Homo sapiens: one gene and its partners. The protein of the gene in region 2 interacts with the protein of the main gene of each other region in a pairwise test. Each region holds a gene or a part of one and is shown on either strand. Other genes may lie near its edges. The genes, in order: LRP8, SYNJ2BP, ELOVL7 and THEM5.

What was found.
Region 1: the proteins of SYNJ2BP (region 2) and LRP8 interact in a two-hybrid assay, tested with the Homo sapiens proteins (one study listed by BioGRID).
Region 3: the proteins of SYNJ2BP (region 2) and ELOVL7 interact in binary tests that used the Homo sapiens proteins (3 or more experiments, as listed by UniProt).
Region 4: the proteins of SYNJ2BP (region 2) and THEM5 interact in binary tests that used the Homo sapiens proteins (3 or more experiments, as listed by UniProt).

The regions. Positions count from the first base shown.
Region 1 is NC_000001.11:53,255,069-53,262,103, forward strand, and holds part of LRP8 (low-density lipoprotein receptor-related protein 8 isoform 1 precursor), read right to left. Parts: coding exon 7,000-7,035; intron 5,538-6,999; coding exon 5,396-5,537; intron 3,404-5,395; coding exon 3,251-3,403; intron 2,397-3,250; coding exon 2,172-2,396; intron 1,414-2,171; exon of another isoform or gene 1,060-1,413; intron 188-1,059; exon of another isoform or gene 118-187; coding exon 49-117; exon of another isoform or gene 29-48; intron 1-28. UniProt on the Homo sapiens protein: Cell surface receptor for Reelin (RELN) and apolipoprotein E (apoE)-containing ligands. LRP8 participates in transmitting the extracellular Reelin signal to intracellular signaling processes, by binding to DAB1 on its cytoplasmic tail.
Region 2 is NC_000014.9:70,386,069-70,393,103, forward strand, and holds part of SYNJ2BP (synaptojanin-2-binding protein), read right to left. Parts: intron 2,539-7,035; coding exon 2,402-2,538; intron 1-2,401. Other genes in the region: SYNJ2BP-COX16 protein, read right to left, coding at 2,402-2,538. UniProt on the Homo sapiens protein: Regulates endocytosis of activin type 2 receptor kinases through the Ral/RALBP1-dependent pathway and may be involved in suppression of activin-induced signal transduction.
Region 3 is NC_000005.10:60,834,246-60,841,280, forward strand, and holds part of ELOVL7 (very long chain fatty acid elongase 7), read right to left. Parts: intron 1-7,035. UniProt on the Homo sapiens protein: Catalyzes the first and rate-limiting reaction of the four reactions that constitute the long-chain fatty acids elongation cycle.
Region 4 is NC_000001.11:151,846,600-151,850,746, forward strand, and holds the end of THEM5 (acyl-coenzyme A thioesterase THEM5), read right to left. Parts: exon of another isoform or gene 3,634-4,147; intron 1,694-3,633; coding exon 1,583-1,693; intron 1,264-1,582; coding exon 1,139-1,263; intron 816-1,138; coding exon 772-815; coding exon of another isoform or gene 521-771; 3' UTR 502-520; downstream 1-501. UniProt on the Homo sapiens protein: Has acyl-CoA thioesterase activity towards long-chain (C16 and C18) fatty acyl-CoA substrates, with a preference for linoleoyl-CoA and other unsaturated long-chain fatty acid-CoA esters.

The DNA of each region.
Region 1 (7,035 bases), on a different chromosome or scaffold from region 2:
CTAAGCAGGGTCTCTCTTTTCTCTTCAGTGACTGGGGGCCACACTCACCTATGGGCACGATGATCCCGATAACAGCGGCAGTGACTGTTGAGCCCATCTTACTGTCTTCATTTGCATCTGCAAAACACAAACATTTGCAGAATGATGCTCTATCACTGTGTGTCCAAGCCCCTACTGGCCTCAAGTGGTAAGAACTACCCAACTGCTGCTCATCCTCATTCTAAAATGATGATCCTGGCTGTTGCCTAATAATTCAGTCTTTCCAGATCCTATCACAACTCCTGTGAGGCAAGCAGGACAGAGGTTATCTCCATTTTACAGGCAAGGAAACTGAGTCTTAACTGAGGGGTTTCAGAAAAGTGGCAGAGCTGGGACTTGAACCCAGGACTCATGTCCCAAGTCCCATACCCTTTCCATAGCATCATGGTAGTAGGAAGCTGGGGGCTGTGCATGGCAAAGTGAGCACTTAGGTCTTTATGTTGCTGATGGACTAGGTCATTTGCCTTTTTCCATCAGTATCTGTTGCTTTGCCAGTATTGTTTTTTGTGAACTGTCTGTCCATCTGCATTATCAGATTATTTTTCATAAGTAATTGAAATGGGACATAGTATAGTGTAGAGGAATCAAAAGCGCAGACTTCTGTGTCAGACTTCTGGGTTCAAGTCCCAGCTCTACTACTCACTACCCATGTGACCTTGGGCAAATTATTATATATTATAAATACAGCACATGGTATTATACTTTTATATCTTTAAAATGGTGATATTACCTACCTCCTAGGGATATGGTAAGGATTAAATGAAATAATTTATCTAAAATGAATATAAAATGCTTGGCACAACTTTGCCTAGTTCTAAGAGGGTGGAGAGTGGGATGGGGTTGTTGAATAGGGTCTAAATTTTAAAAAGATATGTAAAAGCACATTTTAAACTGAAAAGTGCTTGGAAAATTTACTGTCTTTTTGAAAAACTATGCCATGCCATCTTTCTCACTCTTATAACCATCTTCATTGTAACATTTGTGAAGCACTTTATAGTTCAGAAAGCATTTTTCCCTTAGATCCTCCTGACAGCTCCCTGTGGTGTGAAAAGGAGCTATCATCTACACTTGCTGCAGGTGAGATGACTGTCCCGGCAATGGCCCAAGGCCCATCCTCTCTCAATGTGACTGTTTATCCATGTTACTCCAAGAGAATCTAACAGTTAAGGGGAGAAAAAGCTGCACTGCTTGCTTCCAGAGCTAACTGTGTCCTCCCTGCTGTCCTCCCTGCTCTGGGCCACAGCGAACACTGGACAGTGATATTAAAACCTAGAGCATGAGGAAGCCAGTGAGGAGAAGCTGGTGAGAGGCTCTGCCCTCAGATGAGAGGAACTGGAATTCACACATGCTCCATCTGCCTCTGCAAACTTCGGAGTAAGTGCTCCACTCCAAAAAGCCAGCTTCTGCTGGCAAATAGGACCAGTTAGGAAGATGTTGCCAAGCAGCTTGGTTTCTGGGCTGTCCATGTAGGGGAAAAAATTAAAAAGATAGTTTATCCTTTTAAATGAACTCCCTCTGGCAGGTAACTCAATTAAAAAGGTATTTGCTGATTAATGAGATAGAACATTTCTAGCAGTGACAATTACTGCTCCCAATGATTTAATAAGTGGTGAACTTAATTATTTTCATCCCAGGGTTGGAAAGAGGTATAAGGAGACCATGGTTGTAGATATTACTATCTGGGGACCTGCTGTGAACTGAGATCAGAGCTTTCCAAACACAAGGGACACCTCCTCATATACACATCAGAACTTTGTGAAACATAGACACACACACCCTCGCAGAGTCAGCAACGGCTGTGTGCGTGAGCACCTCCAGTTATACCGGTTACACCTTTGTCTATCATGGCAATCTTGTGAAGCAGGTTGTGGAAGGGTGGTTATTTCCACTTTGTAAGAGAAGCAACTGAGGCTCACAGGGTCTCAGCTTCCTACAAGACCCTCTGTAAGGTAGGGGCACCTATGAGTCCTAAATCGCAGGCTGGTACTCTACCTCCCTCTCAGATATGCAGTAACCTCCTCAAAGATATGCAGTATTCAGCTCTGGTAGGTTCTGTCTTATCACATACCCCCTTCCTGGCTTCCCTAGGAGCCCTCCCATGTCATGAAAGAATGCAGAACTCATTTCCTTACAGTGCTGGGAGTGGTTGCTGGTTGCAGGGCTTAGGGTAGACGGGCTGATGCTGGGAGCCCTGGGGACACTAACTGAGCTTGGGACTGCAGCTGTCAGGCTTGGTGTCTCTGTGCTGTGGTTCTGGTAGGTGGATCTGTGGACGGTGGTCCCGGGGGCTCTTGTGGTGGCAGGTACTGTCCTCGTCATGGTAGAAGCTAACGTCGTAGTTGAGGTAGATTGAGGTGCTGGAGGGGAAATACCATGGAGGTCACTTGGACAGATAATTTTGTTGCCTAAGGTATTGCCTCTGAGATATACTTAGGAACTTATCTTCATGGCGTAGCTCAAATGCCACTTCTGTGAAGCCTTTCCTAATCTCCCCAGTGGGCTATGATCTTTTCTTTAGCTGAATGCTAAGCACTTCACTTTGATTCAATAAAGATGAGTCATTAAAACATTGCTGTGGAATTAGTTGTAAGATCAGCAATAAAAAGACTGTAGGGAGGGGAAATCAGATAAATCTAGAAGGATTTTACACTCATATATTGTTATACCAATAGATTGAAATTCTTATTCCACTTTAAACAATTGAACCTGTAAATCATTAATAATGCAGTAGACTTAGGCTCAAATGAAAGGCCTTGGCTATACATCAAGATTAGGACATGAATCTGTGTATGCGGTTGAAGTATTAACTATTAGTCCCAATTATATTGCAAAAGGGCTGCTGTGTAGTGTTTGTTAAGTTCTAGGTGAGAAACAGGCAAATATATAGTTATCTGCATGTACCTGAAGCCACGGCGATTAAGGGTTCTTAACTTGAGGTTTTTAAAGCGTTCCAGAAACTCCCTGAAACTGAATTTAAAATGTTTTATGTATATGTGCATTTTTTCCTTGGGAGTGAGAAAAAGCTTTGGAAGGATCCTGGGGGCATGAGCATTCAAGGAAGGTAAAAAAGAGAAACCCCCAAAAGGCAACAAGTAACCAGGGAAGATGGAAGAAAACCAGCAGCATACTGTGTCCCAGAAGCCAAGGGAAGATTTCAGCAGGGTAGGGTCTGACACTGCCAGGGGCCATCCCTCCTGGAAGGTCTGCTTACCTCGGTAGCACCTCTTCATGTCTGGACCCAGCCACATTGTGTCAGGACAGGCACATGTGTACTTGGGAGAGTGGCTGGAGATCTGAGGAGCAGGAAGGCACAGGTATTCACAGCCTCCATTAGGCTGGACACTCAGCTCACAGGCATCTGGAGCTAATGGCAGAGAGGGAGACAGCTGGGGCACAGACAGGACATGCCAGGTCTTCCTGCCTCCTGAGGATGAGGCTTCTCCCACCTGGCTTGCTCAAAAAGCTTGCCCTATACTTTTTTTTTCACATTTTTTTTCTTTTTCTTTCTTTTTTTATCCCCCAAAGCTTTTGGGATACACGTTTTTTGTTACATGGATGAATTATATAGTGGTGAATTCTGGTACTTTAGCGCACCTGTAACCCAAGTGTAGTGTACATTGTACCTAATGTGTAATTTTTTTTTTTTTAAATCTCTAGCCCCGCTATTACCTTCTCCATTTTTAGTCTCTAAAGTCCATTATATGCCCCTGTGTACTCATAGCTTAGCTATACTCTGTATGCCCCTGTGTACTCATAGCTTAGCTCCTGCTTATAAGTGAGAGCATATAGTTTTTGGTTTTCCACTACTATCATACTTTACTTAGAATAATGGCTTCCAGCTCCATCCAAGTTGCTGCAAAATACATTATTTTGTTCCTTTTTATGGCTGAGTAGTATTCCAAGGTGTATATATGCCACACTTTCTTTATTCACTCATTAGTTGATGGACACTTAGGTTGGTTCCACATCTCTGCAATTGTGAAGCCCTTCTACTTTTTCAATTTTTTTTATGTTTTATGTTTTGAGACAGGGTCTCACTCTGTTGCCTAGACTAAGTGCAGCAGTGCAATCATAGCTCACTGCAGCCTCAAACTCCTGGGCTTAAGAAATCCTCCCACCTCGGCCTCCCGAGTAGCTGGAACTATAGGCGCATGCCACCATACAAGGGTCATTTTTATAGTTTTTGTAGTGATAGAGTCTTGCCTTCTTGCCCAGGCTGGTCCCAAACTCCTGGGCTCAAGTGATCCTCCTGCGTTGGCCTCCCAAAGTGCTGGAATTGCAGGTATAAGCCACCATGCCTGGCCTCCCTACTACTTTTATTGGGTACTTTCCAGCACCATACCTAGTGTTTTATCCCTACACTCTCATTTAATCCTTGCAACAATTCTGAGAGGTGGGGACGTTACATCCCAGACTGACAAATAAAGACACCTAGGCTCAAAGAGAACAAATTCGTCAAACCTATACTCTAGGAATTTTTTTTTTTTTTAAGAGGTAGGGGTCTTGCTCTGTCGCCCAGGCTGGAGTGCAGTAATGCAATCATAGCCCACTGCTGCCTGGAGCTCCTGTGCTCAAGGGATCCTCCTGCCTCAGCCTCTCAGTGTTGGGATTACAGGCATGAGCCACCATGTCTGGACTAGAGATAGAACTTAAATTGAGGTCGGCTGGGCTCCAAAGCCCATAAGCCCGCGGTTTTTATTTTTCCCTGTGCCACATACTATGTCTCTCATTTAAATTTCTAGGTCTAGAATCAGGCACCAATCTTAGCTCCTTACACTCCCTTGCTCTCCCTCTTTCACCCTGGCAGCCAACACTTCAGTTACAGTTAGAATTAATGTATCCTAGTGATAGAGGAGGGGACAACCTAGTAGTAGGATTCCTAGATTCTATTCCCAACCAATAAGCTGACTTATTATATGGCCCTCGGATACATTAGCTTATACTACTGCAGAATGGCTACAAATAGCAAGTTAGATGCAGTGTGTCATGGTGAAAGCAGCTGTGGAACCAGATAGACCTGGGTTTAGGTTTCAGTTCTGCCACCTGCTAACATTATTTTACCTCTCTGAGCTTCCGTTTCCTCAACTGTTAGAAGAGTAATACCCACACTTTGTAGGATTGGCAAAAACAGGACAGTTATGTATTCATTTATACCCAGCCTTATTTCACAAAGAACTTGAGGTAAAATGAGACAAAATATATGATGAAAAAGTACTCTACCAACAAGAGGGATTGTTGTTATTATTCCTGGGGTTGCTGAGTTGTGACCTGAATGTGAACACAGCCTGCCTGGTGAAAGGAGAGGACACAGTGACACAGTCAGGGGACCTGGGACCTAGGACCAGAGACAGCTCACCTCTTGGCTGCTTCAGCTCATGGAAGATGACAATGTCATGTGGGTTGTTGAGGTTCTCAGCCAGGATGGAGATTTCCAGGCCATTGAGCCGATTTGCACTGAAAATGGCCTCGTTCTCCAGGTCTGTCCAGAACACCTTGTCCTGTGGGGTATAGATGCAGAGGATGGGAGGCCTGGAGTGTAAATCCATGACCTCAGTCTGAGGGGTTGGCCCCAAACCATAGTCACAAGAACTTCCCTGAAATCTCCCCTGATCTGTCCTGTCTATGGATTCACGGTGGGGCTCTCAGCCTCTAATCTGTGATGCACGTCTCCTTGTTCCCTTCTATCTTAGAGGATTATTCAGTGATTCTGTGCTTTGAACTGACAGCCACAACATTACTCATTCATGCTGAACTAAGCCTGCTTGCTAGAGCCCAGCAGAAACCCAAGGTTAAATCTCTATAGCATTATCATTACTGGGGCCTGGGACCAAGATTGGAAGGAATGTGTGAGCTATGAGGGTTATGCCTTGCTGGGCTTCCTGTAGCCTCTGGGTATCCACACGAGTCCACATGGTTAGTCCATATAAGCCTAGATGTGCATCTGTCAGCAAATCCACACGTACAGGTACAACTGTGCATCCTCATACACAGATCTAAACACATACCCAAATGTTCATCCACACACAAAAAGCTACATTTGCCCCTAAATATGCAGTCTATATACATCTTGGTATATGTATGTACACACATAAGCACCAGCACTTAGAGGAATGCACACTTTTATTCTGATGCATTTATATTTACCCATGCACATACACATACTTTACATGTACATGCCATGTATATAAACAAGCACAAACACTTGTGTACCAACACACCTGTCCTTTAAAGCAGGGGCTGGACTTAGAGGTGGAGCTTTGCCCACAACTTCAGAGCAGTGCTGAGTAACTTTGCTGCAAGCAAATCCTGCCAATGCCCACCACAGACCATCATCCCTTTGCTTTCCCTCCCCTTGGTGGTGGAGTTAGTTTTCGGGAAGAGGTGAAGGTGTGAGACCTTGGTTGGTTCTGGCTTCTTCATTCCCGGAGAAGAAAAGTCATTAGGGTCAGGGCACAGGAGGGTCTTCGCTCCTCACTTTGCTGGGAGCTTCTTGAGACTAGGATAGTGTCTGATTCACTTCTATGACCCCAGGGTCTGGCAGAGGTCAATAAAAGTGTGCAGAATTGAACAGCATCTCTCAGGCCATTTCCTCCAGTAAATGATTCTAAGGATATGTATGTTCCTTCTTCCTTTCCTCCCTTTACTGGGTGCCTTTTGTATATGGGTTACAGTGCTGGGTGCTGAGGGCACAGAGAGGAAACATACATGCCTAGCAGCTCACCTGTGAGAAGTGCTCTGGGAGAGGGGTCTTGGGAAGAGAGCGTGGGAAAGGCTGCCAGGTGGAGAGTGGGCTGCAGAGCCTTTGTGTGCAGGCAGCTCACAGATTGTTTACAAACAAATCAGTTGGTTTCCCTGTTCCTGTTTTCATTTGAACAAGTCTCAGGGACTCATCCTATTTGAACAAGCATTTTCTAGGCTTCAGCTTCCTAGTGGGCCCTTGCCTCTCCTTACAGGACTCACCTCAAACACAGCTATCCCAAAAGGGTGGCTCAGGAA
Region 2 (7,035 bases):
CTTAACTCCTATACTATTCTTCATCCACAGAGCCCAGGTTCCAGTGTTCTGAGGATAATGTAATTTATGTGTCAAAATATTAAGCTGCATAGATTCTAACTAAATGCTACACCTTTATTTTAACAACCCACTCTCAGCATTCCTTACAGTACCACTGCCAAGTTGATTCATATTGGATGAATGTCTTTCCTTGGGAGCTAAAGGAAATAATCTGCTTCTAAACTTTTCACTATCCTTTTGAGAAGACAGGTATATTATCACTGTCTCCATCTCACTGATTAATAAACAGGGTCTAGGAGAAGCTTAATGGACTGAAGAGAGGCAGAATAGTCAATGAGAAGGACTGAAATACTGCAGTGCTTGATACTATATTTATATTATGGATCAGCGAGGACACATGCTTAGACATTCTTGAGCTAATTTAGGTGGCTCTAATAGCTACTTGTTCTGATTTTCTTTCTTTTTGGGGGACTAAGTGGAGTCACAGTCTTCCTGAAGAGGCATTCAGAACCATACTGCTGAGCCTGATCACTCAAATACTCAGATGCCAAATGAAGAAAAGGTGGATGTTCTCTCTCTCTTTTCCTTTGTATCTCTGCCTTCAGGTTCTGCTACCAAATGGGCTTCATGGCAGAGAGGTGTTCAATAAGCTGACAACTAAGAAGAGCAAGAGATTTCACACATATGACCTTTAATCACTAATCACCTGAACTGCATGAGAAGTAATGTGAAAGGGAAAATTCAAATGAAACTATATAGCAAAAAATTTTTAAGGGATGAAGCTAACTCATTATAGAGGTAGGTTCAAAATCATGTATCTGAGACCAATACTTAATTCTGCCAATCAAGACTTCTCCTGTCTGTACTTCATTCATTTATTTCAACGTTTTCCCAACGTGGCCATCTTGCCCTATTCAGTTCTAAAAGAAAACAGGGAATAGTTTTCTCCTCTTCGGACCATGGGCTTATGGCCCATCTGGAGAGGATAGGGCTCCGAAGCCCTATCCTATTTCAATTTCCTTTTATTTAAGTCTAGCCCTTTGAAGCCAGCTCTCCCAAGAATATTCTAGATAATATCTCACCCCCTCAGCATTTTTCCATTCTTTATACCAATCATCTGCACTGTTTCCATACAAGTAATAAGCTGGCCATTTTTCACTAGTCCTGAAGATTAATAAAAAAAGAAATTCTACAGAATAATTATCTCCAACTATACTCCCTTATCCCCCAGCAAACTGATAGTATCATAGGATTACTGTGGCCCATGGTAAGGTAGAGAAATGAACAATAGGGCCAGAGTTATATTTTGCATTTTAATAGTTTTGACTGTATGCTTGTTCTAATTTATTTTAAGACCTGAGGTCTGTGGGCCCATATTTATCAGTCAACCTTTTTAGGTTTGCCTGAATTTCTTAACTTGTTCATTTCTTAAACATTATTAAGCACTGTGCTATGATTCAAAAGGTTAAAAAAAGATCTTAGGCCGGGCCCGGTGGCTCACGCCTGTAATCCCAGCACTTTGGGAGGCTGAGGTGGGCGAATCATGAGGTCAGGAGTTCGAGACCAGCCTAGCCAACATGGTGAAACCCTGTCTATACTAAAAATATAAAAAATTAGCTGGGCGTAGTGGCAGGGGCCTGTAGTCCCAACTACTCAGGAGGCTGAGGCAGGAGAATCGCTTGAACCCGGGAGGCAGAGGTTGCGGTGAGCCAAGATTACGACCCTGCACTCCAGCCTGGGTGACAGAGCAAGAATCTATCTCAAAAAAAAAAAAAAAAGGATCTTTTCACTGCCCTTGAGGAAATATTCTGGAAAATAGTAAGATTAATAATTACCATGTAGTATGTCTTCGTAGAGACATTAGCAGGATGAAATGGGAACACAGCGGACAGGTACCCAAATCAACTGCATTCCAAATTTTCATGTTAATAATGGGTGAAAAAGGGCTCTGAGTCTGAAAAGGACACTTAACTCCAACCTTCCTTCTTTCTGTTTTGTGATGTTAAATCCAATTATAAGGGCTGACATTCCCCCAAAGGAAGATACACATTAGTGTTTTAATCAACAAAAGGAGGTGATAAAGTAATGGATGAAAGACAAAATTTGTGGATTTTAAATCTCTTTTCCCCATATGAGTCCCTCGCTGCTTCCTGCCTTGTGCTTTTTGAACAAGTAACTTCACATTCTGGGCTTCACATTCTCATCTATCAGGTGAGCATAATGTTGCCCTCCATGCTCAATGATAGGGTTGGAAAGAATGACTGATCAAAGTTGTTCCCATTCAACTCTACAACCTGTATATTTCCAGATCCAAATCTTTTCAAGGAAAAGGGATAGGGAGGGGTAGGACCTAGGGCTTAGGGAGCAAAGGACAGTGAAGGAGGCCGAAGCCCATTCTCACCGAAAGGATCTTATCACCCTCCTGGAGCCGCCCATCCAGGGCCGCAGCCCCATTTTCTTTGATGCGGCTGACGTAGATGCCACTGTCGTTGGAGACATACTGCTGATCTGTCCCACCGACGATGTTGAAGCCCAGCCCTGAGAAAATCATGGAGGAGTAAAAAGATGGGGGTGAAGAAGAAAGAAAGAGATTAGAGAAGATGAAGAGAAAGGGAGGGAAAGCCTACTGGGGAGGAAAGGCTGATGGAGAGGAGATGCTGGCGAGTCAGCCTGTGATGGAGCTGGTGAATGGTCATGAACAAGGTCAGCCATATCAAGAGTATTGAGTTGCTCACTCAAATGAGGCACGACTGAAAATATAAACACAGTGATCCACCTGTTTTGTTCAATATATAAAGAAAGATCTATATAGAACTTAAAGAATAATGGTGATTACTCTAAGTTCGTTCTTCTTTTTCTTTTTTTTTTTTTTTCAGAGTCTTGCTAGTGGGCATAGTGGTGGGCGCCTGTAATCCCAGCTACTCAGGAGTTCATAGCTCAGTTGCCCAGGCTGGTTATGAGCTCCTGGCCTCAAGCAATCACTATTGCCTTGGCCTCCCAAAGTTCTAGGATTACAGGTGTGAGCCACCATGCCCAGCCTAGATGTAAGTTCTTCTACTCACATTTAGTTTTGATCCTGTTGATGGTATTCAAAGGACCCAATTCCTGACATTCCTGATATTACTACAGCAGGGTTAGCTGTGTTCATCAAAAGAAGCTATGCATTTTTACCAATTATCAAATGAACTGTTCCTAATTTAGTGTGAGAGATTTCTAACCATACCTTCCCTTCCACACTTTCCTTCTCCCAAGCTTCTGGAGAATTTATGTATGATAGTGCTTTAGAAAAATCTCTTGAGAGTTTCTTTTTTTTTTTTTTTTTTTCCATTTTGGTGGTGGAGGCAGTGGTGTAGGTATTGGCAGAGAAACCTCAGAACCAGAAAGGTAACTGCTATTTCATGGTAGGACTAAATCACCAAATTTACTCTCCCTTCCTTCGCTACTTCAAGTACAACCATATATAGGTTGAGTATCCCTTATCCAAAATGCTTAGGACCAAATGTGTTTTGAATTTTGAATTTGGGGGATTTTGGAATATTTGAATTAAACTTACCAGTTGAATATCCCTAATCCAAAAATCTGAAATCTGCAATGCTTCAATGAGCATTTCCTTTGAACGTCATGTTGGCCCTTAAAAAATTTTGGAGTTGGAAGCATTTCAAATTTCAGATTTTTGGATTTGGGCTACTCAATCTATACTTGGGCATAGTAATTGACAACTTTTATTCACTGTAGAAAAAACTGACTACTCGTTGATTAGCAACTCCCCAGTTCCTCTTCCCTAAGTCCTTGGAAACCACCATTCTAATATTTGTTTTTATGAGTTTAACTATTTTAAATGCATATAATTTTAGTTATGCAAGATGAATTAAGTTCTAGAGATCTGCTGTACAACATTGTGCCTACAGATAATACTATATCATACACTGAAAAATCTGTTCGGAGTAGATCTCACGTTAAGTGTTCCTACCACAGTAAAACAAAATATTAAAAGAAAGAAAAAAGAGAAGGAAAGAAAACTGAGTACCAAAGTGCTATTTCTATGGACCAATGACTAAGTGCTGGAAAGGATTTTACTGTACAGAAACCGTTGTTAGGAAAGGATTTTACCTATGCATAAAAAAATAAAAAGGAAAAAGGAACTTCTCTAGGGCTTTCTTAATGTCAGCTACTGGTAGAATTCAGGGGCACAGTGTAAGACAAAGGAGATAGTTTGGAAACAAACCAAAAATCTAGCGGTGCAATTGGAAGGAATAACCATAATCACCAGCCTACACTGTTCTCAATAGAAAAGATACTTAAAGAGACATATGCGGGGGGCCGGGCGCGGTGGCTCACGACTGTAATCCCAGCACTTTGGGAGGCCAAGGCAGGTGGATCACAAGGTCAGGAGATCGAGACCATCTTGGCTAACACAGTGAAACCCTGTCTCTACTAAAAATACAAAAAATCACCTGGGCATGGTGGCAGGCACCTGTAGTCCCAGCTACTCGGGAGGCTGAGGCAGGAGAATGGCGTGAACCCGGGAGGTGGAGTTTGCAGTGAGCTGAGATTGCATCACTGCACTCCAGCCTGGGCGACAGAGCAAGACTCCATCTCAAAAAAAAAAATAAAAAAGAGACATATGCGGGCTTTCTGAAAGTTCTCCCCATTGGTGGGAGAAAAGCTTACACCTGAAGCTCACAGTATTAACATAAGCACTAGCAAATCAATTTGTAATTTAAAGAAAAACATGACCAAACAAAGACACAACAGGAAACATTTAAGTTAAAAAGCATACCTTAGCCAGGCATGGTGGCTCACGCCTATAATCCCAGCACTTTGGGAGGCCAAGGTGGGTGGATCACTTGAGCTCAGGAGTTCGAGACCAGCCTGGGCAACGTGGTGAAACCCCGTCTCTACCAAAAATACAAAAAATTAGACACGCGTGGTGGCACATGACCAACATTGGGAGGCTGAGGTAGGAGGATCATTTGACCCTGGGAGGCAGAGGTTGCAGTGAGCCAAGATTGTGTCACTGCACTCCAGCCAGGGTGACAGAGTGAGACCCCCATCTCAAAAATAAAATAAAATACATAAAAAGCATACCTTGTGCATAAAATCTCTGCAGCTAGATAATAGAAAGAATTTATTCTCTAAAATAATATACATAATAGAAAGTGCTACTTCTGGAGTTTGTGACCTGGCTGGGCAACATAGCAAGACCCTATTCTCTAAAAAAATAAATAAGAAGGTGCTACTTCTGGAAGATGCTATTTTAACTTCCTTGAAGGGCTGGGTATTAAAAATAGTAGCTTAACTTACTAAATGATTTTCTTAGAGCACCCTCAATTTGTATCATAGAAGGTAGGAAGTATTGGAGAAGGTACAGAAATGTAAGATAAGGTGGAAAAGCAGATGGAACAAGATTATCGAAGGTTTTGAAATGACTTCAAAACTGTGACAGCTTTGAACAAGGGGGCCAAGGCCAACCCACCTCTCCCAAGCTGGAACAAACTATGTAGAAAAATCTTTTGATGAAATCCAACACCCTCATCAAATGCTACAGTTGCCTCTGGTGATCTTGGGAACAGGAAGCAAATGTTAAGCAGCTGAATGCAATGTAGTAGTTAGCAACAGAAAGGACTTTGCTACTGGTTATTCAAAGCTAACTGTAGAAAAAAAAGGAAGAGTAGAAGAAATTTTACCGAGATTTACCATAAACAAAAAAGAGCCGTCTACTACACACCCCATCGAAGTCATATTATATAGGTACATTTATAACCCGTTGCTACTTCTGTTGTAAATGAACCAAACTATTTAACATGAGAACTCCTGGACTGACCTGAAGCCCTTTGTTCAGCCAGAATATTTACAGAACTGGGTGTATCTATAAGCCAAAGCATTGCTGCAATAAAAGAGTCACCACAGCATTAAGTAGTGGCATGACCAACTGAACCTGGGCTGTACGGATACCTACATAATCCCCAGTTCACTTGCTCAGTAAAAATTACTGATTGAATCTTATGTGTAAGATGTTGTGTTATCATCTGAGGAAGACATAAAGTTAAACTGCACACTCCCTGCTTTGATCACAAACTGGAGTTTTTCCTTTTTCCTGTCCCTTTAAGATATTGCAGAAGCAAATCAACATTTACTATGTGTTAGGCATTACGTTATGCTCTGAGGAAGATATAAAGCTAACCTGGACAGTTCCTATTTTAACCACAAACCCAAATTTATCCTTTTCCCTGTCCCTTTTAGATATTGTAGAAGCAAATCAAAGTCAGAAGACTTGGTTCTAAGTTTATAACTTACCAGATATGTGGACTGAAGCAAGTCAGTTTACCTCTGATCCTCAGCTTCCTTTTCTACAAAAATAAGAATTATAAATTCTGCCCTGTCTACATCAATGGGTAAGTGTTAGGGGCCAATAACATAAAATACGAAAAAAAATCTTCATAAACTACATAGTAGTTGCTCTATTGGGATAAGGCGCTAGGAGTAGTTGTCAATAAACTAATGGCTGCTAAAGCTCCAAACTAGATAGTTTGACAGAGAAAGAATGAATAAATATACAGTAGAAATGCAAAATCTCCTAAAAAATGGGAAGACAGATTTTAAAATTCCACCCATCTATAAACAGGAACTCAAACTTATTAAGTACGTCTATGGCATGTGACCTAGAAATCCCCCTTAAGAGTAGTTTCTAGCAAGTGTGATATCTAAACTCTGCGGCAATCATCCAGCATATGGACCAACCAATTGAAACAGATGTCAGTTGGAAACCACCAGAAAGGGAAAGGCTATTCAATACGTATCTTGCTAATCATTGGCTATGGCCCAGAAAAATCTTGCATAAGTAGGGTGACCACATATCCCAAAAGCAATTGCCACAAAAGCCAAAATTGACAAATGGGATCAATTAAAGAGCTTTTGCTCAGCAAAAGAAACTATCATCAGAGTGGACAGGTAACCTACAAAATGGGAGAAAATTTTTGCAATCTATCCATCTGACAAAGGGCTAATATCCAGAATCTACAAGGAACTTAAACA
Region 3 (7,035 bases), on a different chromosome or scaffold from region 2:
ATTCTCCTGCCTCAGCCTCCCAAGTAGCTGGGATTACAGGTGCCCGCCACCACACCTGGCTAATTTTGTTTTCGTATTTTTAGTAGAGACGGGGTTTCACCGTGTTAGCCAGGATGGTCTCCATCTCCTGACCTTGTGATCCGCCCGCCTCGGCCTCCCAAAGTGCTGGGATTACAGGCGTGAGCCACTGCGCCCGACCGGTTCACATTATTAAAATAAACTTAAATGTTATATAGATGTTATTAATGAAAGCCCAATTTAAAATAAGAAGCATGAGCCAGGCAGAGTAGCTTACACCTGTAATCCCAGCTACTTGGGAGGCTGAGATGGGAGGAATGTTTGATGCCAGAAATTTGAGATCAGCTTGGGCAACATGGTGAGATCCTGTCTCTCAAAAAATGATATAAAATAAGAAGTATGAGTTGATTATATACCATTAGTATGGAATGCTAAGTGAAGGTTCTGACTACTTACTACACTATAGCGTAAACTATTACAGTCAGACTAACAGGAGCAGGAATTCTGACTAGTTTTGGTTAGTTGATTTTTAAAAATTTATTTATAGCAAAGAATGAAAAATTTATTTAGATACTATAAACACTTACTTTTTAAAAAAATATATAAATAGGCATTAATTCTCCAATTTTCCAAAGTAGTCCCAAGGGCTGGGCACAGTGGCTCACACCTGTAATTCCAGCACTTTGGGAGGCCAAGGCGGGCAGATCACTTGAGCTCAGGAGTTCAAGACGAGCTTGGGCAACACAGAAAAACCCTGTCTCTACCAAAATACAAAAATTAGCCGGGCGTGGTGGCACACACCCGTAGTCCCAGTTACACGGGAGACTGAAGTGGGAGGATCAATTGAGCCCGGGAGGTGGAGGTTGCAGCGAGCTGAGAGCAAGCCACTGCACTCCAGCCTGGGTGACACAGTGAGATCCCATCTTGAAAAAAAAAAAAAAAAAAGACAGAGTAGTCCCAAGACTGTACTTGAGGAAGAGCTCCTCACCAATATTTTTCTGCTATAAACCATACCTAGAACTTAATCTACAATTTCCAGTTTTAACTTTCTAAGTGAATTAAAAACAAAGCAAAACAAAATAAAACAACTACACACACTTTTAAGGCAAGCTCAGGATATTTTTCAAGTTTTTACAATTTCTGTTTTTATTTTTGAATTTTTTTTTTAGACAGGGTCTCACTCTGTCATCGAGGCTGAAGTACAGTGGTGCAATCACAGCTCACTACAGCCTCGACCTCCTGGACTTAAGGGATCTTCCCACTTCAGCCTCTGGAGTAGCTAGGACTACAGACGCATGCCACCACACCCAGTTATTTTTTAAATTTTTTGTAGAGATGGATGTCTCACTATGTTGCCCAGGCTCGTCTTCAACTCCTGTCCTCAAGTGATCCTCCCACTTAGGCTTCTCAAAGTGGTGGGATTACAGGCGTGAGCCACTGCACCCAGCCATCTTTCTGATTTTTTTAGTTTTCCTGACCCCTTAGTGACTCACTTTTATGGAACCTTTCCAAAGAATTCAACATTCCTTTCACAATAACAATATTCTTTTTTTGCACTTACGTTTCATAAGTTCACGCATATCTAAATTATCTATCACAATAACAAATATAACTGGCACTAACATGTTTGCAATAAATACAATAAATTGTTGTTAAGCCAATAACCCAGCAGTTGGAGAAGGAAGAAGACTACTAGAAGCCACTGTTCATCATGCCTGGGCACCACCCCATGTGCTTATAGGGAAATGAAGAGCATAGGCTCATTGGTCAACTGTTAGATGTCAACGGTATTGTATTTGAATCAGGATGAACCATATGCAAACTGCCAACATCCAACTGTTTATTCACCTACAGAAAGGGCAATTGCATATGTTCAACCATATATATATATACACATTTTATTTAAAAACACTGACTATATTTTATGTTAAATATCACATCCACTACCATTTTTTTCCTTTAGAAGAATGAATAGTGGTTCTCACAGCTTGATTTAAAAAATTCCATTCCACATTGGCTCAGGAACTCACCCTAAGCTACTGAATAATTCGTCATTGGACTCTGGATTCCTAGGAATGCCATTTCTATCTTCTTTCTTTCTTCAAGTTAAAGTCACACCTGTTAGTCACACACGAAGAAGAGGATGAAGGATGAAGCTATCAGCTGTGCTTTCTAGCTAACTGAATGATAAGCAGCAAAGGGATTAAAATGTGGGTCAACATTGTTCGTTGGCTGGTTTATTTCTGAGACATAAATCTTTCTGTCCTACAGGATGCAACACAGCACTGTCTGCCTGAAGAAGGTACAAAAAGACAGGTAAGACTCTGAGGGGCAGAGAAGCCCCTGAACAGACTTAAAATAAGTCACCCTTAAGTAATAAGTGCCCTTTACTTTTGTTCTGCCCTTGTTAGAGCATTTAATTAAAATAAACACACAAACAAATCACAAGCGTGCTATTAGGACAAAACCCAAAAATTTGGGACAGAAAGAAGGAGAAGAGTTGGGGGATGGGGCTGTATTTAGATTAAGGGCTGCTAGTGAAACTCTCTTTGTCTAGATCTCACGTTTCTACCATTGACACTAAAAAATCTAAATTGGGTTTATTTTTATGGTTGCCCTTACGCCCTCACAAAACTATTGTAAGATATCAGAGTCCTAGGGCCTCCTATATTCTCAAAAATATCAACCCAGAGAGTTAGTATTCAGAGTGGGGAGAGCCTAAACCTTGTAATTACACCTAGGTTTAAATCCTGGCTGCATACTTCTACCAGTGTAGCCTGAGCACCCTTTCTGCTTTTTTCACCTTTCTGTACCTGTGCATATGATGAGCCAGACTTTGCTGGCTTCAAAGGATTCATTAGAAAATACAAGTAAAGAGACTCACTGCAGGCTGGGTGCAGTGTCTCACGCCTGTAATCCCAGCACTTTGGGAGGCTGAGGCGGGCAGATCACCTGAGGTCGGGAGTCGAGACCAGCCTGGCCACCACGGTGAAACCCCGTCTCTACTAAAAATACAAAAATTAGCCGGGCAGGCGTGGTAGGGCGGGGGGGTGGGGGGGGAGTGGGGGGTGGGGGTGGCGCTTGTCAGGAGGCTGAACCAGGAGAATTGCTTGAACCTGGGAGGCAGAGGTTGCAGTGAGCCAAGATCACAACATTGCACTTCAAACTGGGTGACACAGTGAGACTCCACCTCAAAAAAAAGAGAGATTCATTGCAACTATTACTTATGCCTAAAAGATGACAAACCTTTCACCCCATAATTTTCAATAAGATGTTTTAAATGTAAATGCAGCCTTGAGTATCCTGTAAGGACAGAGGTACAGATGATGCCCATGAAGTTGATTTTCTGTTTCAAAATTCACATGCAAGCTAAGCATAATCAAGATATCTAATGTAGGCTGGGCGCAGTGGCTCATGCCTGTAATCCCAGCACTTTAGGAGGCCAAGGCAGGTGCATCACCTGAGGTCGGGAGTTTGAGACCAGCCTGACCTAACATGGACAAACCCCGTCTCTACTAAAAATACAAAATTAGCCAGGCATGATGGTGCATGCCTGTAATCCCAGCTACTCGGGAGGCTGAGGCAGGAGAATTGCTTGAACACGGGAGGTTGCAGTAAGCCAAGAGCATGCCATTGCACTCCAGCCTGGGCAACAAGAGCAAAACTCTGTCTCAAAAAAAAGATATCTAATGTAAACAAGGAAGGTAGCTGTCCTTTCCAGATCAGATAGGGAAATGAGATAAAGGCCTGATGGGAGGAGGAGAGGTTTCATAAAGGTGAAATGGCAAGCGCCAGAGAGATTCAAATCTTAACACATCCTTTTCCTTCTTACAGGCTTCCCAGGATTCCCCACTGACATTATGATAAAATCCAAAACCTTTATGGGGTCAAAAAATGCTCTCAGTAAGCCTGGCCTCTGCATGCCTAGGCAACTTCAACTCACACCCTCTTCCTAGTTACTTTAAAGTATCTGCATCTCCCTGATCGCACCTGCACTCTCTCCCTAGATTCTATTTCCCACTCCTCGTCCCATTTCTCAGCTGCCCTAACTCGCACTCTTCCTTCTTTCCTCTCAGAAGGACTTCCTGTCTGCCCGCCTCTGCCTTGCCTCCCCAGGACCTGGTCTGTGTATATCACAGCACAGTTTATCATACTGAACTGTAATTTTGTAACTTACATTTACTTGTCTATAACTCACATGGACCTGGACTGGCTTTAGCAATCTGCCAGCCCCTTTGCCTGACACAAAGCTAACACTCAAATGTTTGTTGAGTGTGCAGCTTCTGAAACTCCCCAGTTTTATCTAGGTTTGGCTCTTTTACCCTACATTAGAAAGTCCAAGAAGCAGGGCTGCTGGTGTTCATGGCTTAAGTAGCTGCTTATCCAGATTGATTAAGATTTGTCTTTAACATGGGGAATTTGTAAGCTATGTGGAAACTTATCTCATTTGAATAATAGTCTGTTTAAAAATATTTATGAGTCAGGTGTGGTGGCTCCTGCCTGTAATCCCAGCACTTTGGGAGGCTGAGGAGGGCAGATCACCTGAGGTCAGGAATTCAAGAGCAGCCTGGCCAACATAGTGAAACCCCGTCTCTACTAAAAATATAAAAATTAGCCATCTTGGTGGTGAGTGTCTGTAATCCCAGCTACTCAGGAGGCTGAGGCTGGAGAATCACTTGAACCCAGGAGGCAGAGGTTGCAGTGAGCAGAGATAGCGCCATTGCACTCCAGCCCAGGCGACAAGAACAAAACAGTGTCAAAAAAAAATATATATATATATATATTTATGATGGGCCAGGCATGATGGCTCACGCCTGTAAGCCCAGCACTTTGGGAGGCTGAGGTGAGCAGATCATCACCTGAGTTCAGGTGTTCGAGAACAGACTGGCCAACATGGTGAAACCCCATCTCTACCAAAAATAAATAAATAAATAATTAGCTGGGCATGGTGGCATGAGCCTGTAGTCCCAGCTACTCAGGAAGCTGAGGCAGGAGAATCACCGAACCTGGGAGGCAGAGGTTGCAGTGAGGCAAGATCGCACAACTTTATTGGTCGACAGAGCAAGATTCCGTCTCAGAAAAAAAAAGAAAGGAAAAGAAATTATGATGGTATGCCAACTTCTATCATTTACAAAAAGAGTGATTTCACTTGCCAATGTAATAATATGTACTTTTAGAAATCAATTAGGAATAATGGAAATTTCAAATTTTTTCAAAGACCAGTGATATAAAATGCCCAACTGGTATTAGTTTTCAACTTTTTGCAACTGTGCATGGTCAAAACTGGATGAGTCACTGAAACACATGTAAGACATATTTCTAAAAGTGTGTTTATGGCATGCTTCTTTCCATGCTACGTGATGTATCTTCTTGAAATTCTGGCTATTCTCAGTTTAACATGCTACCATTTACCATGGCTCCGGAATTCCGTGTTTGGTAAATAGCAACCTTCCAGGCCATGTGCAATGGCTCACATCTGTAATCCTAGCACTTTGGAAGGCTGAGGCAGGAGAATCATTTCAGCCCAGGAGTTCAAGACCAATGTGGGCAACATAGTGAGACTCTGTCTCTATAAAAGATACAAAAAATTAGCCAGGCATGGTGACATGTGTCTGTAGTCTCAGCTACTGGGGACTCTGAAGTGGGAGGATTGCTTGAGTCTGGGGATTGAGGCTGCGGAAAGCCATGACTGTGCCACTGCACTCCCGCCTGGGTGACAGAGAGAGACCCTGTCTCGGGGGGAGAAAAGAGCATCCTTCTGTATCTTAAAACTGATAAGCACAAGTGGCACATCATGGAGAATAAACAAATCTCAAAAATTAGAAAAAATCCTACTTTCTCAATTTGCCTAGAAATTATTTGCAGATAGGCGCTTTCTTTTATGCACATTTGAAAACCCTATGGCAGGTTGAATTGTGTGCCCCAAAGAGGATATGTTGAAATCCTAACCCCCAATACCTCACAGTGTGCTATTATTTGGACATTGAATTTTTGCAGATGTTAAAATGAGGTCATACTGGAGTGGGATGGGCCCTAAATCCAATATGACTGGTGTGTTTATAAGATGGTTATGTGAAGACACAGACACAAAGGGAAAATGCATATGAAGACAGAAGCAGAGATTAGAGTGATGCCAGCACAAGGAATATCAGAGATTGCTGCTGTCACCAGAACCTAGGAGAAGCATGGAACAAATTCTCCCTCAGAGCTTTCAGAAGGGTTCAACACTGCTGACACCCTAATTTTAGACTTGTAGCCTCCAGAACTGTGAGACAATAAATTGCTGTTTTTTCAAGCTACCCAGTTGGTGGTACTTTGTTATGGCAGCCTGAGGAAACTAATACAACATTTAATAATACTGTTCATGTTTAATTGAATTGCTGTTACTTCCTAGAGAGAGAAGTTAGGTAAAATGCATTGATCCTCTTTTTAAAATCGCTTTTAGAAATCTGACAGCATGTATTGAGAACCATAAAAATGACCATACTTGCTGACGAAGTAATTCTACTTCTGGAACAGTATCATTAGGAAATGAGTCCCAACTTGTAAAATGATACAACTGCAAAGATAAGTATTACTATAACTTAGGTTGTTTATAATTTGTTGCTAATATACTTGTCCAACAATAGAGTTTTAGTTAAGTAAATCACATTATAATTACTAGAATACAAACAATATGAGTTCTGAAAATTACATAAGATGAAAAATGCTTACTAGGTATTATATGGAAAACACAGAATACTAAAAAAAATTACTTTCCTTTTTTTTTTTTTTTTTTTTTAAGACAGAGTCTCCTTTGTTGCCCAGGCTGGAGTGCAGTGGCATGATCTCAGCTCACTGCAACCTCTGCCTCCTGGGTTCAAGCGATTCTCCTGCCTCAGCCTCCCAAGTAGCTGGGACTACAGGCATGTGCCAACACACCCAGCTAACTTTTGTATTTTTAGTAGAGATGGGGTTTCACCATTTTGGCCAGGCTGGTCTCAAACTCCTGACCTAAGGTGATCCACCTGCCTCAGC
Region 4 (4,147 bases), on a different chromosome or scaffold from region 2:
TCTTTCCCTAAACGCCTGCCCTCCTCAACACCTTGCTCTTCTCCAAAGTCCCTGTACACTTTCACACCTCTGCACCTTTGTCTTACTTCTTACTTCCCTTCTGCCTGGGATATCCTCCTCTCCCCTGCCTGCCTAATGAACACCACTTAACTTTTGAGACAGTTCAGGAAGAGCTTCTTCTAGAAGATGTTTTCTGATTGCTTTTGTAGAGTAAAATTAGCCCTTCCTCCCGCTGAGATGACACTGCACTCATGATGGAAGCCAGGGTGGGTGTGGGAGGAGCGTGATAGGGCACTCTGACTTGGCACCTGGCTCCCGCATTGTGCATCTTGAGACCGGGGCCCTGTCTTTCACTTCTGGGTGCCTGGTGCCTCACACAGTGCCTGACACCTGGCGGGTACTCAGTAAATCTTTTCAGTCGGTGCTGAATGGGAAGGTGGGTATGTGAGATGCCCTGGAAGGATTTTGATTTCCAACCACAGAAAGGCCCTGGGCCGAGAATGGGACTGTGAGACTTTATTTACTCAGAGAAAAGGGTCCTTTCCCTCGCCTCACCAATTGCTGCTTGAGGACCCCTCCCTGCTCTTTGATGGGTCCCAGGCAGGCAGGGGAGGCAGGAGGCAGGAGGCAGGCAGGGGAGGCAGGAGGCAGGAGGCAGGCAGGGGAGGCAGGAGGCAGGCAGGGGAGGCAGGAGGCAGGAGGCAGGCAGGGGAGGCAGGAGGCAGGAGGCAGGCAGGGGAGGCAGTGGCTCTCCTGCAGGCACAGTGACTGTTACTGGGGAGACTCTTCTTCCAACTGCAGCTGAAGGAAAACACCTGCAAGAGAAGGGTGAGTTGAGCTGCAAGAGCTGCACTGAGATGGCTGGAGCTTGATGGACACTCTGAGCATTTGGCTGCAAATTACCCATTACCTGGGTCCTGTCCTTTCGTTACAGGTTGGATAACTCATATATAGAAAAAAAAATCCTAGTTCTGCTCTCCCTTGCTTCATCTGTGTCCCTAGTAGGTGCCCTATCCCACCCCTAAAGAAGCTGGACCGCAGCTTGGGATGAATCATTGGCATCTTTTCTTCCTCCTGTTTGTTCTGGGGGTGGGTGGTGGTGGGACGGGGCCTGGGGCTGGGCTGGGGGCTCCTTTACCTGAGGACTTGGCATAAACTGTCTGCTGGTCTCTGCTGTGGGCGATGCAGGACATGTAAAGCTTCTGGTCCTCAATCTTGTCCAGTTCTACGTCCATTACAACCAGAGAGTCCACGGGGATCAAGCTGGGAGACGAGGCAGCTTAGCCCATCTCTCATGTGAACCCGGTTCCCCATCCCTTCACTCTCTGTGTCCTCTTCCCTCTCTTCATCCCTCCCGGCCTCGAGGACTCAGAAGTGGCCCTGGGCTCAGGGCCTTTTTGTCAGCTCCCAAAGTTGGACAGCAGAGGCTGTGTCCTGGCCAGGGACTAGAGGAATTGCTTGGGAGTGGGCTGGGGAAGGAGAGTGGCAGGCAGGGCTCCTACACCCCAGCTGCCGAGGATGGCCACTTCCAGGGATGAAAAGGTCTGTGACTTTGGCCAATGCCCCAGGGGCCCATACTTACTTTTTGAACCTGATGTTGAGACTTAGTGTGAACAGCCCCTCTCCAGCCAGGAAGGCAGTTTTAGAAAAGGTCTCGTCCATCATGGCTGCCAGGGACCCGCCGTGAGCAAACCTGGGGGTGGGGTAAGGTGAGGAGCAAGGCCTGGGCTGGGGCTGCTGGGCAGACCCCCTCAATGGGCCTTCCCTCCCTCCTGTGGTGATCCTACCTTTCCCTTTCCCTAGACCCTTCCAAACACAGACGTTCAGCCTCAGGGCAGCCAAATAGGAAAGAAGGAAACAGCTGCATCCCATCTGATCAAACCCGTCAAAATCAACTGAGCTTTTCTGTTTTGCTTCAGCATGCGTTTGCAGCCAATGATACAACATTTTATTTCATCAGGGAAATTGTTTTTTTCTGATAAAGTTAATAGAAAACATTTTTCTGGTTCATTACCTAATTGCTGGCAATAATTGCCATAATTTGGAAGGATGGGCATATACAGGAAATGAAAAAGTCCCTGAACTTTTTGACTCAGTCTTTGAGGCACAACCCTGGGCTGTTTCTCACCTTACCAGTCACTACAGCCAGTGCGGGGCCCACATCTCAAGATAAGTAAATGTGAAACATAACTTATGACCTATCAAGGGCTGGCATGACACACTTCTGAGCAGCGTTGCCACAGAAAGCAGAGCGCCTGCTTCAGCAGGCTCAATGCTGAAATTGAGCTGAAATGCTCAAATGCCGCAGACATTTGCTTTATTTAGAATGCATAGAATGGCCAGTCGCAGTGGCTCACGCCTGTAATCCCAGCACTTTGGGAGGCTGAGGTGGGCAGATCACTTGATGTCAGGAGTTCGAGACCAGCTTGGCCAGTATGGTGAAACTCCGTCTCTACTAAAAAATATAAAAATTAGACGGGTGTGGTGGCAAGCGCCTGTAACTCAGCTACTCGAGAGGCTGAGACATGAGAATCGATTGAACCCGGTGGGTGGAGGTTGCAGTGAGCTGAGATTGTGCCACTGCATTCCAGCCTGGGCAACAGATCAAGACTGTCTCAAAATTAAAAAAAAAAAAAAAAGCGTAAAATGTTCATTCTTGCTTTTGCAAGCTTTATGTCAGCTACTTCATGGTTGGCTAATTTGGGAAAATAGGCACCCATTTTAGAATTCAAATAACACCAAGCAGATTTGAGTTCCTGATTTTCAAAAGCACAGCCCATTCTCCACAGAGCCAGATCAGCTGTCCACACTGTACTGCCATGGGTTACCCTCCTGCTGCTGTGACCAGTGGCTTTTCCAGACCCTTCCCTCCCTGCTTCTTTAGTCTCTATCCACCCAGTTGGACTCCTTGTCCCACAGCTCACTACATGTTTGATCTTGAGCAAATTGCTAAACCTTTCTGAGCCTTAGTTTTTCCACCATGAATTTCACAATTCTGATCTCAGCAGATTAAATAAACAAATGTTTGCAAACATAATTTACACACTTCTTAGGCACTTCCCTGTCTGCCTCCCAAATTGCTTGAAAGAGAGTGAAAAGAGTTGGTGTCAAAGAACTCGAAACCAACTCTCTCCTCCTTGTCCTCACTGGCCAGCCTGGGGACCCATTGGCCAGTATGTGGATCTACAGAGTAGCTCTTGGCCAACGAGTAACTCCTCCTTCCCACTCCCCATGGTCTAGGGGCCTGGTGGATACTAATCTCTTCTCTAGACCCCCAACCCCTCAATCCACTGACTGGCCTTAGTGTTGGATGGTCCTCCTCTGCCTCTTTGGCCTCACTTCCATCAGCCCCTAAATAAAAGTCAGCCATGCTTCAGAAAGGAGGGAGTCCATGGCCTGGGCAGGGCTCTGAGCAATTCACTAGTATCTGCACAGCCTAGTGTGTGGAGCAGTGTCCCTGTGGAGGACTCCTTTGGGATGGCCAAGGTGACTGAGGGCTGCAGTTGGCATCCACAGCCTCTGGAGGCCCTGACATCTATTTAGCACTCTGGATTCTATTTAACCCCAGTTAAGCCCCTCTCAGGCTTCAGGACCCTAAAGCCACTCCTGCCCTCTCTTGTCTCTCCCTTGCAGGAGCTCCAGCACCACCTCCAGCCTTCAGTGACTGTCTGGAGCAGGCATCCGGATGGAAGAGAAGGGGGACAACCATGAACTTGGTGACCCACGGTCAGCCTGATTTCCCTTGTGGACACATTTATGCCCAGTGTGCATTCCTCCTGAGGTCTGTTCCAAGTCTGGAGGCAGCAGAGTAGAGTGGAGAGAACAGTGGACTTGGAATCTCACCTCCCAGATTAGAGTCCTGGATCTGACTTTGATTGCTGGTGCTGCCTCGGGCAAGTTACTTTAGCTGTGTGCATCTCCATTTCCCCATGGATAGAACATGGGTTTTGGGTAGAAGTGTCTGATAGCTGTACTGTGCTTTACGGTTCATGAGCACGCACACATAGGCCCATAATATCATATCTCTGGTCACCCTGGCAGGTAGATATTATTGCCCCAGGTTTCAGGTAAGAAGACTAAAGACCAGGGGTCAATTGCTTGCTCAGAGTCCCACAGCCAGCAGCAGCCAGGCAGGACACCAAGTCAG